Regions from separate parts of the Homo sapiens genome. Here regions 1, 3, 4, 5 and 6 are each reported to be linked to region 2. Evidence: microRNA targets listed by miRTarBase, many of them from high-throughput screens and not tested one by one. Region 2 holds a microRNA gene; each other region holds the end of a gene's coding sequence. Distances are between the middles of the regions.

Region 1 (4,130 bases), not on the chromosome of region 2:
GTCCAAGGCTTCCCCCAACACTCGCAGTGGAACCCGCCGTTCTCCGCGCATTGCCACCACCACAGCCAGCGCCGCCACTGCTGCCGCCATTGGTGCCACCCCTCGAGCCAAGGGCAAGGTAGAGGCACTGGCAGGATGGGGGAGGGAAACCCGATGAGAGCATGGGCACCCCCCAGACCGCCCCACCAAGTAGCATCCAAGATGGGGCCACGCCAGGCTGCTGGAGGGTGTGGGGTAAGAGGTGTCCCTGTCCTGGTAGCTCCTCTCCAAGGAGAGAAGACAGATGGCCCCATTCTCATGGAGAGCACCCAGAGCTGCTCAGGCACAGCCAGCAACTGATAACCCTGGGGCTCACAAGGGAGGGGATCCAGACAGGGGCGTGGGAGCAGGAAGAGATCTTCCCAGCCAGTGGGTGCAGGCTAGTATCGCAAGTTCTCATCTGGCCATGTGACTGTGTCTCTTTCAGGCAAAGCACTAAAGGGCCAGTACCAGTGAGTGGCCCCACCTGTGTCCCCGATGCTGACCTCACCTGGTCCTCCGCCTACTGTCCCTCTCAGTGCCTTCTCTCAGCTCCCAGGCCAACAGTAGCCAAACCCCTAGAGACAGTGATGCCTGCCCGCACCCTGGCCTGGTCCCTGGTCCTTCACTGGCGCCTTCTCGGAGCTGGCCCAGGGGGCCTGGAGCATGGACAGTGTGGGCGCTCTCCCTACCTTGCCTCCTTTTTTCTTAAAGCAAAGTCACTTCTCCATCACAACCAGATTTGAGGCTGGTTTTGATGGCTGGGTCCTTGGGCCTGGCCAGTCTTCCTCTTAGCCTCTGGATCTAGAAGGGACCATAAGAGGAGTAGGCCCTGGTTCCTGCTGTCCTGGTGGCTGGGCCCAGCAGGGGCCCTCACTCTTGAAGTCCAGGACTGGGTCTGACCTGGTGGGAGCACCTGCCAGAGGATGCTCTTTCCCAGGACGGATGGGCCCTATGTCTCAGGAGTGGGGTTGGGGGACAGCCTTCAGCAGCAGCTCACACCCTACCTTCCCCAGACTTGCACTGGGGTGGGATTTGGAGTGATGGGAAGGTTTTTAAGGGCCGGGGATGGATCTTTTCTAAATGTTATTACTTGTAAATAAAGTCTATTTTTCTCCCGTGAGTACTGAGTTGACTTGATCGGTGTGGGAAAAAGAGGAATATAGGCTCTTTGAAGCCTACCTTGTTCCTGCTGAGTCTTCCATACCACCTCCTTTCTCTCATCCCTTTTCCTGAGGCCACATCTTTCCAGGCTCTTCCCACTCTCCATTAGTGGCCTCTGCTCCCGGGGAGCATTATGGGCTGTTCTCTCTTTTCTTTTTCAAGCGCCTGTGTTCCCCTGAAGCAGGTGTTGTCTTCAGCTTCTGTGTGGCAGTCCCTCTCTCCCATACTCCCTCGTGGGACAGGCAAAGTTCCTGGGAGTGGAACTGAAGCCTAAATGAACAGATGTCAGGATGCCTCCATTGAATAATCCTTTATGAGGACCCATGTGGGGATGACACAGATACAGTGTGGATCCGAAGCAGCTGCTGCCCCCATCCCTTCCCTGGAACAGTCCATTAGAGTGAAGGGGGAAAAAAAAAACATACAGCACGAAGATAGGAAGTCTGCAGAATGCGGCCAGAGCTGAAAGAGGATGACTTCACTGAAGAGGCAGCATTTCAACCAGGCTTGAGCGTTCCCCTGCTGGGGCGGTGAGGAAGACGGGACTAAATGAGCAGAGACATGGGAGTGGGAGCTGTCTGGGAAAAGCAAGAATAGTTGGGAGGCTTCCAGAAAGTCATGTGGGAAATGCAGGTAGGGCCCTGGAGTGCAAGGCTAAGGCATCAACAGTCTTGGTGGTTTCTGAGCAGTAGAGCAGTGTGAGGAGTAGGACGTTAGGAAGGCTAATGGATAGGTGGAGAGAGAATGGCAGGAGGAGGAGGCATTATAAGGAGGCTGTGATTTTCTAGGTAGGTGGGAATGGAGTTTGAATTTGGTGAGAGAAGGGACCCAAAGCAGAGAAGGAGGGGGTGTGTTGCGCATCCACGCAGCCTACAGGCAGTCAGGGACTGTTCACTCCAGGTAGACAGGTAGGACCCAAGCTCTGGTCAAGGTTGTGCTGCTGCTGGCCCTGTGCTGAGTCTTAACCCTGCTGCTGTGGACTGCTGTGGCTGGAGGGCAGGGCTTCTTGGGTGGGGGGCAAGGTTGCCCTCAGCCCAGCCTAGGGAAGTGAAGGCAGACAAGGATCAGGCCAAGGAAAGGAGGGACATCTCATCACTTTGCCCCAGGCTACACCTCCTCTGCCCAAGACCTAAGTTCCTTTTTGTCTGGCTGACCTTGAGGAATGCTGGGCATTAGTTCACAGGCTGCTCTGGCAGAGCCCACCCTTTCCTCCCCACATATGGAAGCAGAGCTCCTCCTGTTCCTGGAGGCCTCTCCTTGGGCTCCTCACCCAGAGCTGGGCCAGGACGACGTGACGCTGGACAACCTGTTCAGGGTCCACGAGCACACAGGAGAAGTTGGTGCTGTGCAGGGCAGGGGTCAGCTGCTCCAGCACCAAGGCCTTGCACAGCTGCGTACCTGTGCTCCCACGTTCCCGGCTGGAGCGGAAGGGAAGGAAAGGTCATGAGAAGGCCGCAGAAGGCCTCCTTCCCACCCACCTGGCTGCTGCGACCCTCACCTGGTGCTCCCCTCCCACAGTCGGCCTGGGAGGTGCTCAATGAAGGAACCATTGCCCAGCCAGTAGAGGATGCTGAAGTTGGGGAAGCGGCTGCAGGCCACACAGGATAAGCTCAGCGTTCCATCTAGGGACACAGGCAGCAGTTAGCTCTTCAGAAGAGCAGGCCCTTCCCCTACCCTGCTCTGCTGTGCCCTCCCTGCCAGCTCCCCCCAGTCCCCATGCATCTGGAACCTAGAGAACTGCTCTGCACACCACCTAGGTGGGAACGTCCGTTACAGAAGTGCAGTTGTCTCCGAGAGGCCCTAGCCCTAAACACGGGGAATGTGAGGAATGGTCCTTGGTTCACGTGATGAATCCTCTTCTGAACCTGTCTCCTCAGGATGACCTTTTCTAGTGCCCAGCCTCGGTGACTTGGGAGCCCAGGTGACAAAGGCAGTGCTGGATGGCTGCTGCTCCTCTGAGATGGCCAGAGGCCAGCAGGCTCTGGGTGGAGGGGCTGGCCTTGGGGTCCACTGCAACCAAGGCTCTGGGAGGTCCTGTGACCATTACTTATGTCTTGAGTTCTCTGTCCTATTTGATAGGGAGCATCTTGGGAGCTGCGCCAAGCCTGCACCCATGACACTGGGTTGGGGAGGGAGAATGGTGCGTGCTCAGCCCAGCTGGCTCAGCTGGTGGTACATGGGCAGAAGGGGACTGGCGCTCAGGAGTCAACCCGACCCTGGGAACCTCTGTGCCCATAGCCCACCCTCCACCACTGTGCTTCTTACTCAGTGGCACTTCCACCTCTGGCCAGGTCACTTCCAATGCTGGACACTGCTTAGCTGCTGGGAACACTGGGGGCTGGGAGGGGCAGGGGTCCTTTGTGCTTCTAACTGAGGCAGTGGCAGCTGTGGTGGTCTGCGAGACAGGTGTGGCTCTGACCAGGAGAGTGACGACGTGGGCACACAGGAGCAGGACCCACAAAGGGCTGAGGTCTGAGGAAAGGACAGTTACAGGTCAGCGGCTCTGGAGACAGAGTGGGCTGCCCGGGTAAGGATGTAACTCCAGCCCAGAGATGTCTGGGTTCTAGCCAGGGAATCAGAGCGGGAAGAGGGACCCCTCAGCACCCACCCCTTAGCCCTTTATTGAACAGAGTACAGAGAAGCTTTAGACTGGAGCCAGAGCTACAATATCTGCCCAGGTTCTTAAAGCAACAGCACCAGGTGCGCTGGGTGGTTTGCCTTGGAGTGAAGGCTCCGGGTTAGCCCATTGCTCCATTCTGTTCATAGACCTCACCCTACCCCGCCTGCCCATGCGTAGCCCCAAGGCCTACCTGGTGTCCAGTTGTGTCTCATGGTCATGATGCATGCGTCAGGAGCTGGTGAGCCTGGCTCTTTATCTGTGACAACGTCCTCTTCTCTGGTGAAAGGTGGGGGAGGAGAATGGTAAACCACTCCCGCTTTTTCTCAGT
Region 2 (4,000 bases):
ACCAATTTGGTATGCATTTGTACTGTCTCTCAGAAAAGGCCGGACTAAAATATGAATAACCCTGTCATGCACACATGGGCGGAATTAGAAAAGGAAACATAATTCTCTCCACAGAGCTTGTTTGGAAATAAATTCAAGACACTTACGAGTTCTTTCTTCTTCATGCACTCCATTATAATTGCAAACAGCTGATGTGATTGTGCCTTATTATAATTAAATGTTTTCTGAATGGTAACTAGAAGCTGCTCCCTGAGGGACTCATTTATTATTCTGTTCAAAGAAAATGCAAGAGAACAAAACAAGGCAAGTTAAATCTATATATGAATGAGTCAGACATATCTCTGTCTTTGATTTGAGACTTTGCTGTGGGAGGATATCCTGACACAGGAGACAAAAAGTAACCATAGTCAAACATCGTATTCTCACTTGTCCTAAATTCCAGCTTTGTTGCAAACTTTCTAAGGGCAAATGAAGTTGGAAATGAGGGAGAGAGAATTCCATCAGGAACACCCTGCCTCTGATGGTTCCCCTGGATGCTGACCTGAGGAAATGGGAGAGGAGATCTAGCAAATCTTCCTGATTTAAACACGTTTGGAATGTCTAAGCAGACCACTTTAGATTTTCTCCTTGGCCCGACAAAGAGGGAGTTACGAACCCGCCCTTCCTCGCGCGTCAGAAATCCTACCCGCCTTCTTCACAGTACTTGTGCGCAAAGGACAGGATGTCCGAGGCACGTCCGCTGCCATCACAAATCACCACAGGGATGGGAGGCTCTTCTTGCAGGTATTCCAAGACGATGGACACCACGTTAGGGCCCCCCTCCACCACGAGACCCACGAGGGGCACGCCCTGCCCCAGTCCTGCAACACAAACCACATTCGCCCATACCACCTGTGCCCTGCACTGTCCACCCAGTCGTTTTAACTCCTGAAGTATGGGGAAGAGTAAAAACATTACGACTTGGGGGATGTTCTATCTGGCTGGAAGGAATTCAGGCATGTGATAACAATTTTCTTTTTCTTTTCTTTTCTTTTTTCTTTTTTGAGACAGAATCACACTCTGTCCCCCAAGCTGGAGTGCAGTGGCATGATCATGGCTCACTGCAGCCTCAACCTCCCTCTCAGCTCAGGCAATCCTCCCACCTCAGCCTCCTGAGTAGCTGGGACTATGGGCACATGCCACCACACCTGGCTAATTTTTGGTAGAGATGAAGTCTTGCCATGTTGCCCAGGCTGGTCTCAAACACCTGGGCTCAAGTGATCCACCTGCCTTGGCCTCCCAAAGTGCTAGGATTACAGGTGTAAGCCACTGTGCCCAGCCCAGTTATCATTCTTGCATTCTGTCACATATTATGGCCTCATTGGGAAAACCAGGACCTCAAAGTCTGAAACTTTCTGACTCACATATGGTTAAACTCCTGAATAACCCACCCACCTGATGTTGGGGCTACTTCAAGGTGACCACTGAGAAATATTGGAAGGTATTCCTGGCTGGAAAAATATCCCCCTGGCTGTCCTAGCCTATGGTCTGAAATTCCCACCCTGATGGCTGTCCCTGAAGAATAAGATGATGAAAGGGGATCTGGACCAGCCAGGGAAATTGCAGTTCAATTCCTGGCTTCTCCCTTATGACACTGGGCCAATCACCAAATCACCAAGAGCCTTAGACAGCCATTTGTAAAAGGTGAACAATCACAGTGCTTCCTTTAACTCCTGCAGTTGTAAAAATATCAGAATATGTGTTTGGCTAGCAAATAATTTTGTAAACGTTAAGTAGCATACAAATGAGGTACACTGTTCTTGTTGACGTTTCTGTCTTCAGTGGCTGGAATAAAGTGCAGATCTTGGACGCAGCCACTTGGACCACTAGTGGCCCATCAGTTAATGACCTGTTCCCAGAGTCCTCCCTCTGTCTCTATCAGTTAATAGGACTCTTCAAGAACACAGTGGGTACCAACTAACTTTTGGTGGCAGAACCTGCAGGCATGGCTCTGGGAAGCAAGAGGTGGCAGGAAGATTCCAGGAAGTTGGGATTCTGGAATGGGAAGGAAATGGGAGTGGAGGCACATTTGCCTACTTCCTAATTTTATGCCACACTGGCCATGACAGATCACACTCTGAGCCTATTTCACCAGCTGTCCATTAGTTGTGATGGGAATTAGTTGATCGATATTAACTAAAGGCAAGTGGAAGTATCGTTGGTCTCAGCTCTGAAGGGCTTCAGATAAAAATCTGCCAGCATTGGTTAAGAGAAGATTGGAGAATTTCAAATGAGCCATTTCAGAGTTTCTAATTTGCTTCCATGAGGTGTTTCTACAGTCAGGGACTCTTACATATGTTGAATAACTCTGCTGTGTCCACCAGAGTAATTACAGCTAAGTTCATTTCAGCAGACATGCATTGAGGGTCTGCTTTGTGCAAAGCCCTGACCAGGAGATATTGGAAAAATGAACTAAGATATCCTGGACTCCGCCTTTGAGATTTCCAACCCAAGCAAGGATTGATATTTTCAATCTTTAGGAATATGGTGGCCAAATCACCTTCTTTTCGAGCAACAGAGTAGAACAGGTTCTTCTTGGCTTAGGCTGGAGTCCTCGAAGCTCCGTGCTGTGGGAAGTGACAACTGAGCACCCCTTTGCTGTCCCTGCCCTGCTCAGAGCCCTAGGCGAAGGATGACAAAGGGAAGCCCACAAGTCACATGGCCAGGTGAAATGGGGTGTTGTAAAAACTTACAAGTCCAGAAAAATTAGAGATGTGAGAACAAAAAACATTCAGTCATCGACCAATGTATTCTTCGAGATCTGATTCTCGGAAATCTACAACTTTTCCTAGTAGGCCATCCCCATTCTACCCACTCTGCAGCATCACAGTCCCATACATGATGATTCCCAATGACCATTCGCCAGGACTAGATGGTCTCCCACAAAAATCTTGCCAGTAATGGGAAAAACAAACTGCTCTTTCAGATCATTTAACAATTGTTTGACGTTAAGAATTACTGGAGTATAAACATGCTCCAAGAGATTATACCAGTTATTGTAATTCTAACCAGTTGTTATCATTGTTTCTTCTGGTTGAGGTTTGCGTCTTTCTCTCTAGTTCGACCTCAGCTTTCGTCTGACAGTGACAGCTCCCCCTCAGGACCAGCAAGGATGATGCCCCTTCAGGAGCAGATGGCTCCTGCAGCCCTCTCCAGATATGTCCCCACCTGGCCATCTTAGTCTACATGAAAGGCCCAGCATTACAGAGATATTTAATAATCACATAATACTTATCAGCAAATAGAAAGAATCCTACTAAATCTTTGAGAAATTGTTTTCCTGTTAAAACACTTAAAAAATAACAACTAATTACAGGGAACAAGAACCACTGGGCAACAGGGTGGGCAAGGCCATCACCATGGCGAGCACTGAGGGTTATTTCGTGCTAACTTGTGAACCTGGGGCAAAGCATCCCCATGTAGCCCAGTGAATGTGATTTGGTAGGTGGCTAAGGTAAGACATCTAGGTGAGTCATTTTCTGTTGACCTAACAAGAAGCAAGGTTAATCTTCTAATCCCCTTGGGCAATCAATCTCCTTCTCAGCCTTGTTTCCACTGTGATGGCATCAGCCCAGGAGGACTGCGTGCCTTTGCCAGCACTTACTTGTGTTGATCTTCTGCAGGGAGATGTGCTTTTCCAGCAGCCTTCGCAGCTTCACCTCGGCGCCATACTTGCCCAGGGTGCCATTGTCAGCCAGGATGAAGTGGGTGTGGGAGTTGTTGAGCACAGAGAGCTTACTTAGAGGGTTGGACATGGTCTGGTACACTCTTGTTACCTGACAAAGTGCACAGCGCAAATCAGACCTGCAGGACTTGGATGTTAAGACCAACAAGGGAAGCAAGCACAATACATATGTGTGGAGTGACTGCACTAAAACTTATTCTCACATCTCTACCCTGCCTTTTGAAGGTTTTATTTTTGCCAATTGTTACATTAAAATAGAAAGAAAGTTAATTGTTT
Region 3 (4,130 bases), 9.9 Mb from region 2:
AGTGCAGTGGCGCGATCTTGGCTCACTGCAACCTCCACCTCCTGGGTTCAAGTGATTCTCCTGCCTCAGCCTCCCAAGTAGTTGGTACTACGGGTGCCCACCACCACGCCTGGCTAATTTTTGTATTTTTTAGTAGAGACTGGGTTTCACCATGTTGTCCAGGCTGATCTTGAACTCCTGACCTCAAGTGATCTGCCCGCTTTTGGCCTCCCAAAGTGCTGGGATTACAGGCATGAGCCACCGCACTACTACAGTAAATGTTAATAACTATATCCGACATAAACAAAAGCTCTTGGGGTCCTCCACAATTTTTCATTTGTGAAGGGGTCCTGAGACCCCCGCAACTCCTGTGCCCTCAGTTATCCCTGTTTCTCTCTCTTCTTAGCAACCATGTTTCCTGAAAGCTGCTTCCCCTCCCACTGGCCCCTCAGCCCTGCCTTGTGGCTTTCCATACTGTTCCTGAAATTGCTCTCACTGAAGCCACAAGGGACCCCCCCTGGCATTTCATCCAGTGGACACTCTTCTGTCCTCGTTTCTCTTGACATCTTGGCCATCTTGGCAACATGACCATGTTGTGCACCTCCTGGAGACACCTTCCACCCTGGCTCTCCTCACCCTGCCCTCTCCTCGTTCTCCGCCTACCTCTCCAGCGCTTGTTCCCGACACCTCTTCTTGCTTTGCTCAGACCACCGCGGCTGGGGTCCTCAGGGCCTGGCCGGGCCCTGTTCTCCTCTCCTCCCCTACCAGGGCTTTAAGCCCAGTCTCCACATGTATGGTTCCCAAGTCTCTAACTCCAGCCCAGCTTTCTCTCCTGACTCCCACACCAACATATCCAGCTGCCCTGAACATCCCCGTAGAAGTCATTCCTCCCCTCACAGGCACCCCTAACTTAAACGCAAGGCTATCTACCCCCGACTCTTTCCAGATCTGCCACTGTCCCAGGAGCCCCAGCCCTACTGTCTCTACCCTCCTTTCACTCTGCTCATCAAACCAGCCACCAAATGCTGTCAACCTCACCCCTAAACAATTCTGCAATCCCTCCACTGTCCATTCCCACTGGCACACCTCAGCTTGGGCACCCTACAGCTCCCTCTGGCCTCTCTCCTCCAATCTGACTTCAGCCAGTGTTCTCTCTTAAGCACATCTCTGCCCTTCTCAGAATCCACCAGAGGCCCCCACTGACCCAGGAGGAATGCCACCCCGCAGCATGGCACAGCGCAATTCACCAGGCCGGCAGTCCTGCCACCTGTCTGGCTCGTGTCTCCTGTCCGGGCCACTCTGTTCCAGCTGGTCTGAGCTTGCCTCCCCTCAGGCACGTGTTGTTCCCTTACTCTCTGTTCCTCAGAGGCCCCTTCTCAGGTTCCCTCTCCAAGAAAGCCAAGAAGGCCTTCCCTGACTGCCCTGCTCAAGTCAGAAGCCCTTTCTGGGTGCTCAAGGCCCTCTTCTCCCATTCCACGCTGAATGGTCACCATCAGTTTCTAGACTCCAAGTTCCTTGAGGAGGAGGAGTTCTTTACCGCTGTATCCCCGTGCCTGGAATGGTGCATGGCACACAGTGGGAGCTTAAGGAAATACTTGCTGATCGAATGGCTTGATGGGTGAAAGCCCCCTACGTGCAGCTGGCAAGCAGCCCTCCCCACCATCAGCTCCCAGGATGGAGCAGGGCTGTGCTCTGGCTGTCTGGCAAGAGGCCCAGGAAACACAGGAGGCAGCTGCCCAGGGCTCCCTGCCACCTGCTGCCTCCTCCTTTTGTGTTGCCCTCACCAGGCACCCAGAAGAAGCTGGCTGGACTCCACACTCTTCCCATCAATGGCCAAGACACAAGGCCGCCAAGACATGAGCACACGGCCCAGGCATGGCACCCTCCCCAGCCACAACGGCTGCACAACCTGATCGGAGTTGACCCTGCTGGAGACACCCAGACCAATCCAGGACACCAGCCGCAAGAACAGCAGCAACACATACCACCCAGCCTGCCCCATACATCATCCCACGGCATCGTCCCCTCACAGTGAACTTGTACCCAGGGGGCTGAAGGCTTTTTCCGAGGTGACTGGGCAATGAGGAGGAGGCTGGGTTGGACTCTCAAGGCACTTTTTTTTTTTTTAATTTCCTTTGTATTTTTTATAGAGATGGGGTCTCACTGTGTTGTCCAGGCTGGTCTCGAATTCCTGGGCTCAAGTGATTCTCCCACCTTGGCCTCCCAAAGTACTGGGATTACAGGCATGAGCCACCACACCCAGCCCTTGGCCTCAAGCTCTTCTGCTGCTAGAGCCTGTCATTTTGGGTCTGCCCCATTCTGCAAGTTCAGGGATTGAGTAGCACTAAGAGGCCACTCCTGATGAGGAGCTCAGGCCCAGGCTGAGATCCTGGAGCTGTGATCTGTCCCCAAGGGCTAGACAAGAACATCTGGGGACAGGCAGGGGGTAAACTTGGGGCCCGCATTCCAGTGTGGGTAAACCAGGGCAGGTGATGGCAATGGGGAAGGCACAGGCAACACCACACTCCCGGAGGCAACAGTGAGCACTCAGACTCTGAAAGTAAAAGGGACACCAGGTCCTCCAGGCTACAGGTCCCTGCCATTAGCCTTGCCTTAGAAGTTGTCATCACCCTACCCTAACCCACGTGCTCCTTTAGCAGGACACCAGGGTTCTGGCCTAGCTGTTAGGAAGAGGCAGCCGCTGGCCCTGCAGCTGGAGGAAGAGCTGGTCTGAGCTCCAAGCCTGCCAGCCTCCTTGGGGCAGCTGGGCAGGATGAGACAGAGTCCAGGTTGGTGGCAAGGACACTGCTCACAGGGCTGCCAAGTAGAGCATGAGCTGAATTCTGCACAACTCAGGGGGTACTATTTGCATGCGTAAGGCATGAACTGTACCCATGAGAGTGATGTCACCTGCTAATTCTGCCTGCCCAGCTGCCCCTCCTGGGAAGAGAGGGAAGGAGAGGAAGAGGGAGCCCTTTCCCCTCTTAGGAGCCTTCCAGGGCATCACCACCTCACTTGCCCCAAACCCCCATCTGAGAAAGAACCACATTCCGGCACAGCACAGATAAAGAGATAGTTTTATGGGTAACAGTATGGGACAGACTGGGAAGGTTGCCAGGGCCTGTAGTGATGAGCTTCCCAGGAATAGACCAACACACAGGCAGGAGTGGCCCAGACAGACAAGTAGATAGACAGACAGACAGAGGGACAAGAAAACAACCAAGTGGGTAAGAGGCCCAGGCCAGGCTCAGCAGCTGTGTCCAGGCATCAGCTCCAGCTCTGCTCTGGGGAACTGGTGGAGGAGAAGGGCTGGCCGGGGCCTCAGTCCTTACAGGGCTCCTTCTCCTCATGCCCTACTATCCCTCATCCAGCCTGCTGGGATCCTTGGCAGGTGGAATTCCCAGGGCTATGGATGGCTGGGCTGAGTGAGCAGAGGATCGAGGCTCTTGGAGACTCCCTGGGGAGGTGGAGGCCTGGGTGGTGTGGGGTTAGCAGCAGCACTGGGGGGAATCTGGTCAAGTTCCAGGATGGGGCCACTGCTCAGCAGGGCCCCTGTGTCCAGGGCAGGCCCTCCACCTGCCCACCACACCAACATGGTGCAATAAATAAAGTTTCAAGTAGTAAGTCAGTGTCAAGCAGGAGAGCTGCAGGCTGGCAGACAGGCAGGGACTGAGAAAGAGAAGCCTCCAGCCACCCACCATATCTGCTCAGTGGGCTCAAGCGGTCGCAAGTCTGTCTTGTGCACTGGAGTGGGTGTCTGGCCCTGATGTCCACATGAGCACTCCCCGCAGGGGCTCAGCCCCTCACACCAGCGCCAGAGCCTGCTCGGTGGGGCAGAAGCAGGGCAACATGGTGCCCACAGCGTCCACGATGGCTGCCAGGTGCTCGTCCTGCGCCTGAGGCCCACAGAGCTGCATGAAGTCTGCCAGACGCAGCAAGTATTCAAGGTTGTGGCCGGAGAAGCCCCGGCAGGCCAGGATCTGCGTGGCAATGGCCTCTTCAGGCGCAGGGCCCAGGTAACCAGGGTTCTGTGGGGTGGCCACATAGGCCAATGCCTTCAGTGGTTGGTCAGGAGCATCTTGGGGATAGAAGGTGACCTCCTTGGTATCGTAGCCACCAAGCACTGCCTCTCGCACATTCAGGTACTTCAG
Region 4 (4,130 bases), not on the chromosome of region 2:
ACCAGGAAGAAGTTGAATCTCTGAATAGAAAAATAACATGCTCTGAAATAGAGGCAATAATTAATAGCTTACCAACCAAAAGAAGTCCAGGACCAGATAGATTCACAGCTGAATTCTACCAGAGGTCCAAGGAGGAGCTGGTACCATTCCTTCTGAAACTATTCCAATGAACAGAAAAGGAGGGAATCCTCCCTAACTCATTTTATGAGGCCAGCATCATCCTGATACCAAAGCCTGGCAGAGACACAACAAAAAAAGAGAATTTTAGACCAATAACCCTGATGAACATTGATGCAAAAATCCTCAATAAAATACTGGCAAACCGAATCCAGCAGCACATCAAAAAGCTTATCCACCATGATCAAGTGGGCTTCATCCCTGGGATTCAAGGCTGGTTCAACATATGCAAATCAATAAATGTAATCCAGCATATAAACAGAACCAAAGACAAAAACCACATGATTATCTCAATAGATGCAGAAAAGGCCTTTGACAAAATTCAACAGCCTTCATGCTAAAAACTCTCAATAAATTAGGTATTGATGGAATGTATCTCAAAATAAGGAGAGCCCTCTATGACAAACCACCAGCCAATATCATACTGCATGGGCAAAACCTGGAAGCATTCCCTTTGAAAACTGGCACAAGACAGGGATGCCGTCTCTCACCACTCCTATTCAACATAGTGTTGGAAGTTCTGGCCAGGGCAATCAGGCAGGAGAAAGAAATAAAGGGTATTCAATTAGGAGAAGAGGAAGTCAAATTGTCCCTGTTTGCAGATGACATGATTGTATATGTAGAAAACCCCATTGTCTCAGCCCAAAATCTCCTTAAGCTGATAAGCAACTTCAGCAAAGTCTCAGGATACAAAATCAATGTACAAAAATCACAAGCATTCTTATACACCAATAACAGACAGAGAGCCAAATCAGGAGTGAACTCCCATTCACAATTGCTTCAAAGAGAATAAAATACCTAGGAATCCAACTTACAAGGGATGTGAAGGATCACTTCAAGGAGAACTACAAACCACTGCTCAATGAAATAAAAGAGGATACAAACAAATAGAAGAACATTCCATGCTCATGGATAGGAAGAATCAATATCATGAAAATGGCCATACTGCCCAAGGTCATTTATAGATTCAATGCCATCCCCATTAAGCTACCAATGACTTTCTTCACAGAATTGGAAAAAACTACTTTAAAGTTCATAAGAAACCAAAAAAGAGCCCGCATTGCCAAGTCAATCCTAAGCCAAAAGAGCAAAGCTGGAAGCATCATACTACCTGACTTCAAACTATACTACAAGGCTACAGTAACCAAAACAGCATGGTACTGGACCAAAACAGAGATATAGACCAATGGAACAGAACAGAGCCCTCAGAAATAATACTACACATCTACAATTATCTGATCTTTGACAAACCTGACGAAAACAAGCAATGGGGAAAGGATTCCCTATTTAATAAATGGTGCTGGGAAAACTGGCTAGCCATATGTAGAAAGCAGAACCTGGATCCCTTCCTTACACCTTATACAAAAATTAATTCAAGATGGATTAAAGACTTAAATGTAAGACCTAAAACCATAAAAACCCTAGAAGAAAACCTAGGCAATATCATTCAGGACATAGGCATGGGCAAGGACTTCATGTCTAAAACACCAAAAGCAATGGCAACAAAAGCCAAAATTGACAAATGGGATCTAATTAAACTAAAGAGCTTCTGCACAGCAAAAGAAACTACCATCAGCGTGAACAGGCAACCTACAGAATGGGAGAAAATTTTTGCAATCTACTCATCTGACAAAGGGCTAATATCCAGAATCTACAAAGAACTCAAACAAATTTACAAGAAAAAAAAAACAACCCCATCAACAAGTGTGCAAAGAATATGAACAGATACTTCTCAAAAGAAGACATTTATGCAGCCAACAGACACATGAAAAAATGCTCATCATCACTGGCCATCAGGGAAATGCAAATCAAAACCACAATGAGATACCATCTCACACCAGTTAGAATGGCAATCATTAAAAAGTCAGGAAACAACAGGTGCTGGAAAGGATGTGGAGAAATAGGAACACTTTTACACTTTTGGTGGGAGTGTAAACTAGTTCAACCATTGTGGAAGACAGTGTGGCAATTCCTCAGAGATCTAGAACTAGAAATACCATTTGACCCAGCCATCCCATTACTGGGTATATACCCAAAGGATTATAAATCATGCTGCTATAAAGACACATGCACACGTATATTTATTGCGGCACTATTCACAATAGCAAAGACTTGGAACCAACCCAAATGTCCATCAATGATAGACTGGATTAAGAAAATGTGGCACATATACACCATAGAATACTGTGCAGCCATAAAAAATGATGAGTTCATGTCCTTTGTAGGGACATGGATAAAGCTGGAAACCATACTTTTCAGCAAACTATTGCAAGAACAAAAAAACCAAACACCTCATGTTCTTAGTCATTGGTGGGAATTGAACGATGAGAACACTTGGACACAGGAAAGGTAACATCACACACTGGGGCCTGTTGTGGGGTGGAGGGAGGGGGGAAGGATAGCATTAGGAGGTATACCTAATGTAAATGACGAGTTAATGGATGCAGCACACCAACATGGCACATGTATGCATATATAACAAACCTGCACATTGTGCACATGTAACCTGGAACTTAAAGTATAATAATAAAATGTACATATATATATATATATATATATATATATATATATATATATATATATATAAATGTTCCAAGAAAACATAGATCAGAGACCACACAAATAGATATAAGCATGTAATAATAAGTAGAAGGAACATTGGGTCAAGAGGGCAGAGTGGAGATTCAGCCTAGAGAGTCTTCCTTGGGCACCAGATTGGGAAATATTTTGCAGAGGTTATGATCATGTCTAGGATATTAAAGGTGCTATTAAGGTATCCAAATCTATCCAAATATAAGATTAAGTAACTGAAGTTCCCAAATGGTGACCAGAACACAGCAGTAGGTGATTTCTCTGAAGTTCAAACGGGTCTGTTGGGAAAAAGAGGACTCCCCATAAGAAGTAGGTCACAGCCCTCAGGGCTGCTTTTCAGAACAGAGCTCCAGTTCCCAGGTAACCAATCCTACAGAGACTATTGTAGGCGTTTGCCTTTCGGAGACTTAGACATTAGGTATGATATAGAAAAAAGATTTCCAAAATCTGAACTACATGATCGGGGACATGAACTTTGTTATCCAAATAGAGGCACTGCAGGAAGATGAGCTATGACTCAGAGAACAACTTGAAACTCGGTAGACAGCAGTGGAACACAGTGTCCTGGGTCAAATTTTCGGCAAAGGGAAATTGGGGCAGAGTTAGGAAATATAGTCTCATTATGAAAACAGCATTTCTTGGACCATGGTACTAGGGAGGGGAACTTAATTCTAAATCATAATATATGGGAGATTAAGTAAAATAAATCCCTTCTTTCTTATCAGTACTAGTGTAGAAAAAGGCAGGAAGAGCCTGTGGTTACATTGTTCCTTTGTTACAAAAAGTTAACAATGAACTTTAGCCTTAGAGAATTTGGAAACTCAGAATCAAAGGAACAAAACTGGGATCTGATTAATAACATTGAAAAGAATCAACATATTAAAAGCATATTATTCTCCTTTATAAATTCATTTGATTGCCCAAATCAATTCATAACTGCCCTCGTTTCAATCAACTACAGACAATCTCTTATTTCTTCAGATGTGTGATTTAGACACTTTAAATCTCTGTGCGGAATTGAAGTGCAGTTTTGGACATTTCTGTCTCATAAATAGCATCAAATTTCTCATTTTGGGCCACGGTGAAGTAATTCTTCCAGTCACCAGCCGTCCCTAAAGGTAAATAAAAAAACATAGGAAAGAATAAAATATTTCCATAAGAAGAAATCAGTATATACCAAAGGAAAAGATTAGAAGGCCTAAAGAAAGACCTTCCTTTTATTTGAATGAATTCAAACAGTCTTTAAATTGTATTAACCTTTAAATTTTTCAGGCTTTTAAAATTTGAATAATTTTTTACATCTGGAAAGGTGGTTTATAATTAAATAGAGTCTGACATTTGAAGAGGCATTCTGAGAAAGA
Region 5 (4,000 bases), not on the chromosome of region 2:
CGATCCCACCCCAAAACGCAGAGAAGGAAAGCCGAGAAGACAAAAAAGAGAGAGAGAATTACCATGGCTGATGTGAAGCTTCCTCATCCAGGGGAATATTTGCGGAGTCTGCCCCTCGGGCGCGGCTGTGGAGGTGGCCATGGGCTCTGGCTGCGCCCGAGCTAGGCTGGGGCTGCTTAGCTGGCTTGCCGCTTCCTCAGGCTCCGAGGACGCGCTGGCCTCGTCTATTTCGGTGAAATTGGCGCTGGAGCTGGCTGAGGTCGCCTGGTCGGAGGGGGACGAAGCAGAGGGCTTGGCGCCGTGGCTGTCGCCGTTGGTGCAGGGCAGGGACTCGGGCGAGGACAGGGAGCAGCTCGAAGCCGCTTGCCTGAAGCGGGGCTCCTGGGCGGGCGCGGGGAAGGCGCGCGAGCTCTCGCCCACCGCCCCAAAGTGGCTGGAGGAGGCCGAGGAGCGGTTGACGCTGAGGTCCATCCCATTGTAATTGTAGCCGTAAGAGCCGGTGTGCATGGCAGCGGGATCCCTGTAAGAGCCGCTCAGAGAGCTGCCACTGCCATAATTTAGCAACTGATAGTCCGGGCCATTTGGATAACGCCCCGAGAAGGAGTTTACAAAGTACGAGCTCATTTGGGTGATTTTGGAGGGCTTGATTTGTGGATCGTGGTCGTTATAACCCTGTGCTTCACGATTTATGATGTATTAATGAATTATAGCGATGCACTGTACTTCGTTTTGCTATGTATGCGGCCAAATATGGGGGGGGGGTTGGAAGGGGGGTGGGGGGCGTTAGGGAATCACGTGCTTTTGTTGACCAGTCGTAAATTCTCGCTGATGACCTCAAGAGGTAATTCATGCTCTATGGTTACAAATAATGACGATCCGAGAATCGTTAGGGCCGATTCAATGCGAGCCTCCGAGAGAGGGGGAAAAAAGGAGAAGGGGGAGAAACAGAGAGAAGGTTGGCTTTGGCCTCTGAGCAGAGCGCGCCACCTCCCGGCGACCGACGGGAGCGCGGGCGTGAGACCGCCATGGCGGCGGGCGGCTGCCTCCCTGCTGGCTCCCTGCAGGCTCCCTGCAGTCGCCGGGAGAGAAAGAAACCCGGCCAAGGCTCAGCCACAGGGTTGAGCCTTTTAGAGCAGGGGTTGGGCTTTTTACCCACTTTCTTGTGGGTGGGGTTAGCCTCTCTATTTGGTTCTTTCTCCCTACATCATCATTGTCGTTATTATTTTAACTTTGGATGAGAAGATCAAAGATAGAGTTGCTTTTCCCTTTCTTGGGCTTTGCAAGTCTCCGAATTGGAGGCGGAAATGGGGGAAGGGTTGGAAGTTGTGTGTGAAAAACAATTATTGCAACGGGTTTTCCCCAGGAGCTTAGTCCGGCCTGCATCCTGGTGGAACTGCTGTTACCGGTCCACAGCGCCCAGGCCGAGCCGGCAGGGCTGGGCGGGAGGCTTGAAAAAGAAGGAGAAGCGTTCACTTCTCCTGGGCCACTTGGAAGTTCGAAATCCCCTTCCGGACCTCCTTGGTGGTCCTTAGCCCAGGCGTGGGGAGTGACAGAGCAGGACAGGGACCCCAGAAACCGAGCACAGCTGGGGCTAAGCGGCCTAGTTGCCGAAAAGACTGCAGCGGCCACCGCGTCTGCTGCTTAGTTTGAGTAGTAACATGTGTCTGAGAGTTTGTAAAGCGGGATCCCTTCCCCTCCTCCTCGGCTATTGCATTCGGAGGCCCCACTACAGGTCCCTCACTCGCAGCTAGGCAGTTTGAGAATTTGCCTGGTGGCAGCCGCCTTCCCGGAAAAGGGGTTCCAAGGACCCGCATGCTTTGCTGAGCACGCTGGGCGGCCAGAGACCGCCGCAGCTGGTCTCCTATTAGGAGGGGACTATTTTCTTTAAAAATAAGAAAGGAAGCGAGAGGGCGGAGGAATAAAGGAAAACAGTGACCGCAGCTTGCCTTCTGGGTGCCGGTGCAAGCAGAGAGAGAATGAGCCATTCTGGGTTGAGAGGATGACACTAAAAGCCCCATCACCTGGCCTCCTGCCCTGGGGTCTCCAAGGAGCAAGGGAAAGTTGTGGCCTTCGGCCTGTGCCTGGCTGGTGGCTTTACATTCCCCTACTTGAGGCTGATCTCCTACTTGAGGCTGATCTGCTACTTGAGGTGGGAAGGGGCACCTGGAGCCTTCAGCTGCAGGGTGAGAGATACCCAGTGGCCCCATTTTTCAGTCTCCAGAGCCACAGGCCAGGAGCGGAGGGCCAAGGCTGGCGAAAAAACCTGGCCATGTGGACGGGCCAAAGACCAGGGGTCGCTGCGAAGGTGAGGACAGAAAAGCGCTGCAGAGGCCCCCAGACTATGGCTCCGTCTCCGCCAGAGAGCTTTAGGGGCCTCAGTGGCTCCCTTAGTGCTGTGTATACACGAGGAAAGGCTAGAGAATGAGAGGGACACAGCACCTCTCCATCCCCCAAGTCTGCACGGGGAGAAGCGGCTGTGAGCCTCAGCACCAGGGAAACGCAGCGCTGGGGCCTGGGCAGGACTGATCGCTCCAGCCTTTATCTCAGCTGTAACTTCCCAGTCGAACAGGGCTCGCTTCGGCGGGCCAGGGCTCTCGCCTTTGCTGAAGAATTCTGGCTCAGGAAAGATGGAGAGGCTGGGGGTTGAGGAGAGAGGAAAAAATGGCAGGGGAGGATTGGAGGTGACCGAGCGTCGAGTTTTCACATCTTTATTATTGTTGTTGTTGTTGTTATTATTATTATTATTATCATCATCATCATCATCATCATCATCGAAGTATTTCACGTCCAGAGCTAAGACAAGACTACAAACACAACACATAGAAAATTAATAAAATAGAACTTTGTTTTCTTCTGAGGCTCCTCTTCTTACTTCTAGGTAGTATGTGCTCCTTCCAGTGGCTTTGGGGAGGGGGTGGGAGAGACGACAGGTCTGGGATCAGGGAGTCTTCAAGGCCCCCGCTGAGGGGACAGCGAATCTACCATTGAACCGTGCACGGGGGACATGGACAAAATGAGACGCGACAGGGACAAGAGCATTTTGCTCTGCTTCCAGGAAACATCAAGTGAGTCCGCTCCTCAGTTCTCACCAGGAAGCCTGATCAGGCTGAGGCGAGTTCCTCGGGAAGGAAGGGCGCGCGGGATGCTGGGTGGGCTCGAGTAGTGAGGCCTCAGAGCACCCGCCGGGAGCTGTGCGGGCGGGGGCGTCCAGGAGAGCGCTGGGCCCCGCCTGTCTGCGCCGGAGAGCAGGTCTCCTGGCTCCCCCACCCGAGAGCCTTCCTTCCCGGGTCTCTCTGACGCCCTCGGCTCCCCACAGGCCTTTCCCCTCGCGTCCTCCCTCCCTTTCCAGCACCTTCACTCGGCCTGTTTTTCTTCCTCCTCCTCGGCACTGAGCTGAGACGCGCTGAGCAGTTTGCTCTCCTTTTTCCACTTCATGCGTCGGTTCTGGAACCATATCTTGATCTGCCTCTCCGTCAGGCACAGGGCGTGCGCGATCTCGATGCGCCGCCGCCGCGTCAGGTAGCGATTGTAGTGAAACTCCTTCTCCAGCTCCAGCGTCTGGTAACGTGTGTATGTCTGGCGGCCTCGCCGGCCGCTGGGCCCAAAGGAGGAACCTGTTACGCAGAGTGGAGATGCTGAGGCCTGCGGTCACCGGGCCCAGGACCCCCTCCCCTAGTCGACCCTCGAACACAGACTCCAGCCAGTACCGGGATGCCCTCTATTCTGCCGGCTCCCTTCCCCCGTTTCGCACTCCTCCAGCGCCCCCTCCAGATTCCCTCCTAGTCTCCTAGGCCTGTGCCGTCTGTCTAGACTCTAGATGGGGGAGGGGAGGAGCAGTTTGAACTCCCACCTGAGCCTGGGGGGAGGGGCTGGTCAGGTGTGTCTCTTCCTAGTTGCATCTTGTCTTTCCCTCCCTTTCCATCCATCTTGTTCCCACCCCCCGTCATCCCCCCAACCCAATGATAAATCCAGGCCGTTAATCCGTAATGACGTAGATCGA
Region 6 (4,130 bases), not on the chromosome of region 2:
TGCCAGTATCCCCCGAGGGGACAAAACTCAGCCAGCGGGAATGGGAAATTATCTAGGGTGATAGGAATATTGTCAGCACAACCACACAACCCAAGATCAGAAAGGCCCTTGGCAACTCAAATGCCCAAGTTCCTTCCTTAAGTACCCTGCAGAGGCTGAACAGGGTCTGTGGGCTGCCAGGTTCTGTGCGGGATCAAGGGGAGCTCTGCAAGCTCTGGCCGGCTTGGCGGCACAGACTGTCTTGCTGCAAGCGATGAGAAGCAAATCAGCAGTGGTTTGAGAAACCAGAGTCTAGCGCAGCTTCTGCAATTCCAAACATTCTCCTTCCTCGTCCCCATTTCCCCCTTTCCTTGCCCATGGTGCAGGATGGAATGAGTAAAATAAATTATCTTTTTCTCCCCATTTCTCTTTACAGAACTGAAGAATAACGAAGTTATCCTTAGCGTCCTCCTAAAGGCTTTTCCTTTTGGCATCTTAAAAGCTTGAGAGATAAAACGGAAACCCCAGAGAGGAGTCTGGGCAGGCTCCCAGGGTGCATGCTGCCTCCATAAATCTGCTGAGCTCTAGACCCTCAATCAGGACTTGTCCCTTGGCTAGCAGGATCCTGGGAACACCTTTGGCCCTGCCCTGTGTAGAGATGTTCATGTCTGTTCCTGTGGGTCACTTTGTTAAGCTGAAGAGTTTTAAGAGGTAGAGCTCAGACCCTGGACTGGGATTTTTCTTACCACTCAAACTTGCTATCCACACACCCTGCACACCTTAGATAAAAAGAACATTTTAAAAGCAGAGTTCACTTTCACTCCAGTCTCCCCTCTTTTGCCCTCACTGAAGCCAAACCACAGAAGACTTTGAGGAATGAGAGACAAATGAGGTAGAGCTCACCTGTGCTCACCAGCTCCGTCAGGGTGGTCAGCCGACCCCTTTCCCTGGGAACCCCACTTCTCTCTGTGGCTGGCTTGGTTGTCGGGGGTGAGATGCCATATTGATTACAGGGCAGCAAAGAACCAGTACCAGGAATTTACTTGACCATTCCCCTTATTTTTCATCTAGAGGAATCTCGGATTCAGCCCTTTCATTGCTAAGACACCTTTTCACTGAGGTTCTTACCAGCTCAGCCAAATCTCCACTCTGCTATAGCAGAAGCAATAATGTTTGCTTTAAAAAGATTTCTTGACCTATGCCTTTTCTTAGAAAGTTTGATAGATTAGTTAGAACTTCAGATCATCAGATCAGTCTCAAATGGGTTTCTTGGAATTTTATATTTGACAATATTTATACTATACCAAACTCATTTGCAGTTCTTAGGTTTGTTGGTTAAAACATTTTTTTAAAGCAGTAAGTTTATAGAAAATGTTTTCATTTAATGGAAGGCTGGGGAATGTCCAGCATCAACCCCTATGGCATGCATTCCCAGGGGCCTTCTCATCTGGGCCTGGAACCTTTGGTTCAGGGCTTAGGGGAGAACAGGCCACATGGCAACAGCCACACAGTCATTGCCTTCAACACAGAGCCACGTGTCCCCAAACAGCAATAGTCATGCCCTTGTCCAGGCTGGGATCTAATTGACACAATAGGTCGTTGACTCCCTCCTAGTAGAGCTATCTAGGTTTGTCTGGAAAGTTTCCGACCCTGGCTTATAGGCACCACACCTCATGTACTCCTCATGGCTTGGATCTCTGTATTCAGCCTTTGTTCAGTCCAATAAACTTTGAGTAGATGATCTCAATTACTGTGTGTTTTTTCAGTTTGCTTTGTTTTAAAACAAAATCCCTTTTGAACCCATTGAAGTTTGACCTTTCTTTCATTTTGATGCCTCTTACTCTGCAGCAGAGTACAAAGCCATACATCCACCCTGTTAAAAAATATGCAGTCACCATGGCTGTCAAAACCACATGACATGATCTGTGTTCACTCAGGGACATATGGATTGTGCTTCCATCCACAGAGCTCAGCACATCCTTTCTGTTCACGGGAATTCCTCTTCTTCTTCTTTTTTTTTTTTTTTTTGAGACAGGGCCTCCCTCTGTTGCCCAAGCTGGAGTGCAGTGGTGCAATCACAGCTCACTGTGGCCTGGACCTCGTGGGCTTAAGTGATCCTCCCGTCTCAGCCTCCCAGGTAGCTGGGACTACAGGTGCTCACCACCACACCTGGCTAATTGTTTTATAGAGACAGAGTCTGACTATGTTGCTCAGGCTGGTCTTGAACTCCTGGGCTCAAGTGATCTTCCCATCTTGGCCTCCTAAAGTTCTAGGATTACAGGCATGAGCCACTGCACCTGACCCTCTTTCTTCTTACAGGAGGGCACAAAGCACACATCATAGGCTGCTGCTTCACCAGACAGGGGAACCGACTGTAGACACAGCTTTCCCAGGGGACAAGGGAGGCTGGGAAGTGGGACTTCAGTATTTCAACTACTAGATGCTGCTCTAGACAGAAAATTTTGCAGGATGGAAGATGCGGGGCTGAGGAGAGGAGGGAAGGGTGAAGCAAAGGAATATGGTAGCAAAAGTATGGGAGCGAACGTGGAGACCACCCCTCCAGGCAGTGTGGGGGATGCCAGTGGCCCAGGGCTATGCTGAGGTCCTGCGGTTGCAGAGCCTGTAACGTGCTTACAGCCGACCCAGCTGCAGAGCAGGGCTGAGAGGTCCGACACTGTGATGTGGTTTACGTTCTCTGAAGGCACTGAGCCCGTGGTGTGTGGGGGGCAGGAACTGCAGAAACCAGAAGAGTGAGATGCAGCCAGGATGCAGTGCCCGGCTGGGCTGAGGAGCACAGGGCACCAGAGTGGAGCAAACAACAAACATATGGCTCCCTGGGTTCGGCAGCCGCCTCGCCCCACCTGAGGTGTTTGTGCTGCAGAAGTTGTCCTGTGCTGGTCAGATGGTGTAGCTGAGCCTCATAAAGATAACAAGACATTGCTCCCAGCACAGAACCCGCGTGGAGCAAACATTTAGGCCAGTCTTCCTCCACACCCATCCCTTGATAAAAGGGGCAGGGCCGCCACCTGCCATAGGGTATCTTGTGCAAATTAGGAAAAGGCACCCCCCTTTCTCTGGCCAGTGAAACCCCACAGGCTTCCCTCCCCGCTCCTTTGCCAAGCACCGTCTTGCACACACTTGTATGCTCCCTGATTTCCCAGCTGATAATGTTTTTTCTTTCTCCACTTTCGGCTCATTCCTCTCAACGAAGGCTGTTTCTAACCTACTTCTTCATAGCACTACCTCAAGCTGCTTCATGGAGCCTATCTTCTTCCTCATTACATCACTGTGGGACATGCAGTCAACAATCAAATGAGGCCCAAAGGGAAACTGAGGCACAGAGCACCTAAGTGATACCTGGGGTCCCCAAACCTCCCCGGCAAACCTGAGATTTCGCATCCCAGTTTTTAGAGCCCTCAAAAGTTGCGTGTGTCAGACCCAACCAGCTCCGATGTTCTAAGTGGGTTTTATTTTCATTTTCTTCTTGTTCTGAAAAGCAACCGCAGTCACACAAGAGAGAGGAGAGTCCCAACTCCGCCGGCTGCACACAGGCTCCCTCTCTCCCCAGTGGGCTAGGAGCACCTTCTTCCTCTTTGTCCTTTCTTCTCGACAGAGTTCAGAAGGAACAGCTGGCTGCCATCTTCAAGCTCATGAAAGACAACAAGGAGACGTTTGGCGAGATGTCCGACGGCGACGTGCAGGAGCAGCTCCGGCTCTACGACATGTAGACTGCGCCCACGGGATGCACAGCGGCCATGCCTGATGCTGTCCCCACCCTTGCCCCATGCCCTTGTTCTTTCCAGACTTCTGTAGGCCTAATTTTCCCTTATAAACATAGATGCAGGCGTACATTCTATAGGTACTTGCCGAGTTCTTGCAGTGTGTATATTACTTTGCAGGAATCAAAATTGTTTTATTCAGAAGACAAAGTCCCTGACCCCTCTGGTTTCTGCTTGCTGGTGAGGTTCCAGCTGTTATTGGGCTCTGAGGCCCTCTCCTGATCCAAATCTTTTTTTGTTTGTTTGAGATGGAGTCTCACTCTGTCTCCCAGGCTGGAGTGCAGTGGCGTGATCTTGGCTCACTGCAACCTCCACCTCCCTGATTCAAGCGACTCTCCTGCCTCAGCCTCCCGAGTAGCTGGGATTGCAGGC

The links. The annotated mature microRNA hsa-miR-211-3p reads GCAGGGACAGCAAAGGGGUGC and lies in region 2 at 2,627-2,647, opposite strand. An mRNA with a match to its seed (bases 2 to 7 or 8) in the 3' UTR can be bound and repressed. Matches are read on the target gene's strand: a 7mer-m8 pairs with bases 2 to 8, a 7mer-A1 pairs with bases 2 to 7 and ends in A, and an 8mer does both.
Region 1: miRTarBase lists NUMA1 as a target of hsa-miR-211-3p. Seed matches in the 3' UTR shown: 7mer-m8 at 632-638.
Region 3: miRTarBase lists CHAC1 as a target of hsa-miR-211-3p. Seed matches in the 3' UTR shown: 7mer-m8 at 3,643-3,649.
Region 4: the mRNA of SULT1B1 is a reported target of hsa-miR-211-3p. Seed matches in the 3' UTR shown: 7mer-A1 at 1,971-1,977.
Region 5: the mRNA of HOXB6 is a reported target of hsa-miR-211-3p. Seed matches in the 3' UTR shown: 7mer-m8 at 3,025-3,031 and 7mer-A1 at 2,939-2,945.
Region 6: miRTarBase lists MXRA7 as a target of hsa-miR-211-3p. The part of its 3' UTR that is shown has no 7-base or 8-base seed match.

What each region holds. Positions count from the first base shown.
Region 1 is chr11:71,999,875-72,004,004 of GRCh38, reverse strand. It overlaps NUMA1 (nuclear mitotic apparatus protein 1), which reads left to right. Exons shown (of 27, transcript NM_006185.4): 26 at 1-118; 27 at 467-1,141. The coding sequence ends at 478. It overlaps IL18BP (interleukin 18 binding protein), which reads right to left. Exons shown (of 6, transcript NM_001039660.2): 2 at 3,993-4,078; 3 at 3,448-3,654; 4 at 2,681-2,804; 5 at 2,453-2,600; 6 at 1,201-2,221. The coding sequence starts at 4,020. The coding sequence ends at 2,144. Among named protein-coding and RNA genes, the nearest start is that of IL18BP, 3.0 kb to the right of the region's middle.
Region 2 is chr15:31,062,433-31,066,432 of GRCh38, forward strand. It overlaps MIR211 (microRNA 211), which reads right to left and starts at 2,709; the gene lies at 2,600-2,709. TRPM1 (transient receptor potential cation channel subfamily M member 1) reads right to left here. Exons shown (of 28, transcript NM_001252024.2): 7 at 3,644-3,815; 8 at 686-860; 9 at 147-270.
Region 3 is chr15:40,955,427-40,959,556 of GRCh38, reverse strand. CHAC1 (ChaC glutathione specific gamma-glutamylcyclotransferase 1) reads right to left here. Exons shown (of 3, transcript NM_024111.6): 3 at 3,045-4,130. The coding sequence ends at 3,783. Among named protein-coding and RNA genes, the nearest start is that of CHAC1, 4.0 kb to the right of the region's middle. RefSeq lists enhancers at 1,269-1,805, 3,308-3,858.
Region 4 is chr4:69,723,320-69,727,449 of GRCh38, forward strand. SULT1B1 (sulfotransferase family 1B member 1) reads right to left here. Exons shown (of 8, transcript NM_014465.4): 8 at 1-3,881. The coding sequence ends at 3,769. Among named protein-coding and RNA genes, the nearest start is that of SULT1B1, 35 kb to the right of the region's middle.
Region 5 is chr17:48,593,059-48,597,058 of GRCh38, forward strand. HOXB6 (homeobox B6) reads right to left here. Exons shown (of 4, transcript NM_018952.5): 4 at 2,693-3,614. The coding sequence ends at 3,355. It overlaps HOXB5 (homeobox B5), which reads right to left and starts at 721. Exons shown (of 2, transcript NM_002147.4): 1 at 63-721. The coding sequence starts at 624. All of the region lies in intron 1 of HOXB-AS3 (HOXB cluster antisense RNA 3), which reads left to right. RefSeq lists a silencer at 345-394 and enhancers at 651-1,158, 860-929, 1,159-1,664, 2,707-3,378, 3,436-3,605.
Region 6 is chr17:76,677,165-76,681,294 of GRCh38, reverse strand. MXRA7 (matrix remodeling associated 7) reads left to right here. Exons shown (of 4, transcript NM_198530.4): 4 at 416-1,729. The coding sequence ends at 428. Among named protein-coding and RNA genes, the nearest start is that of MXRA7, 32 kb to the left of the region's middle.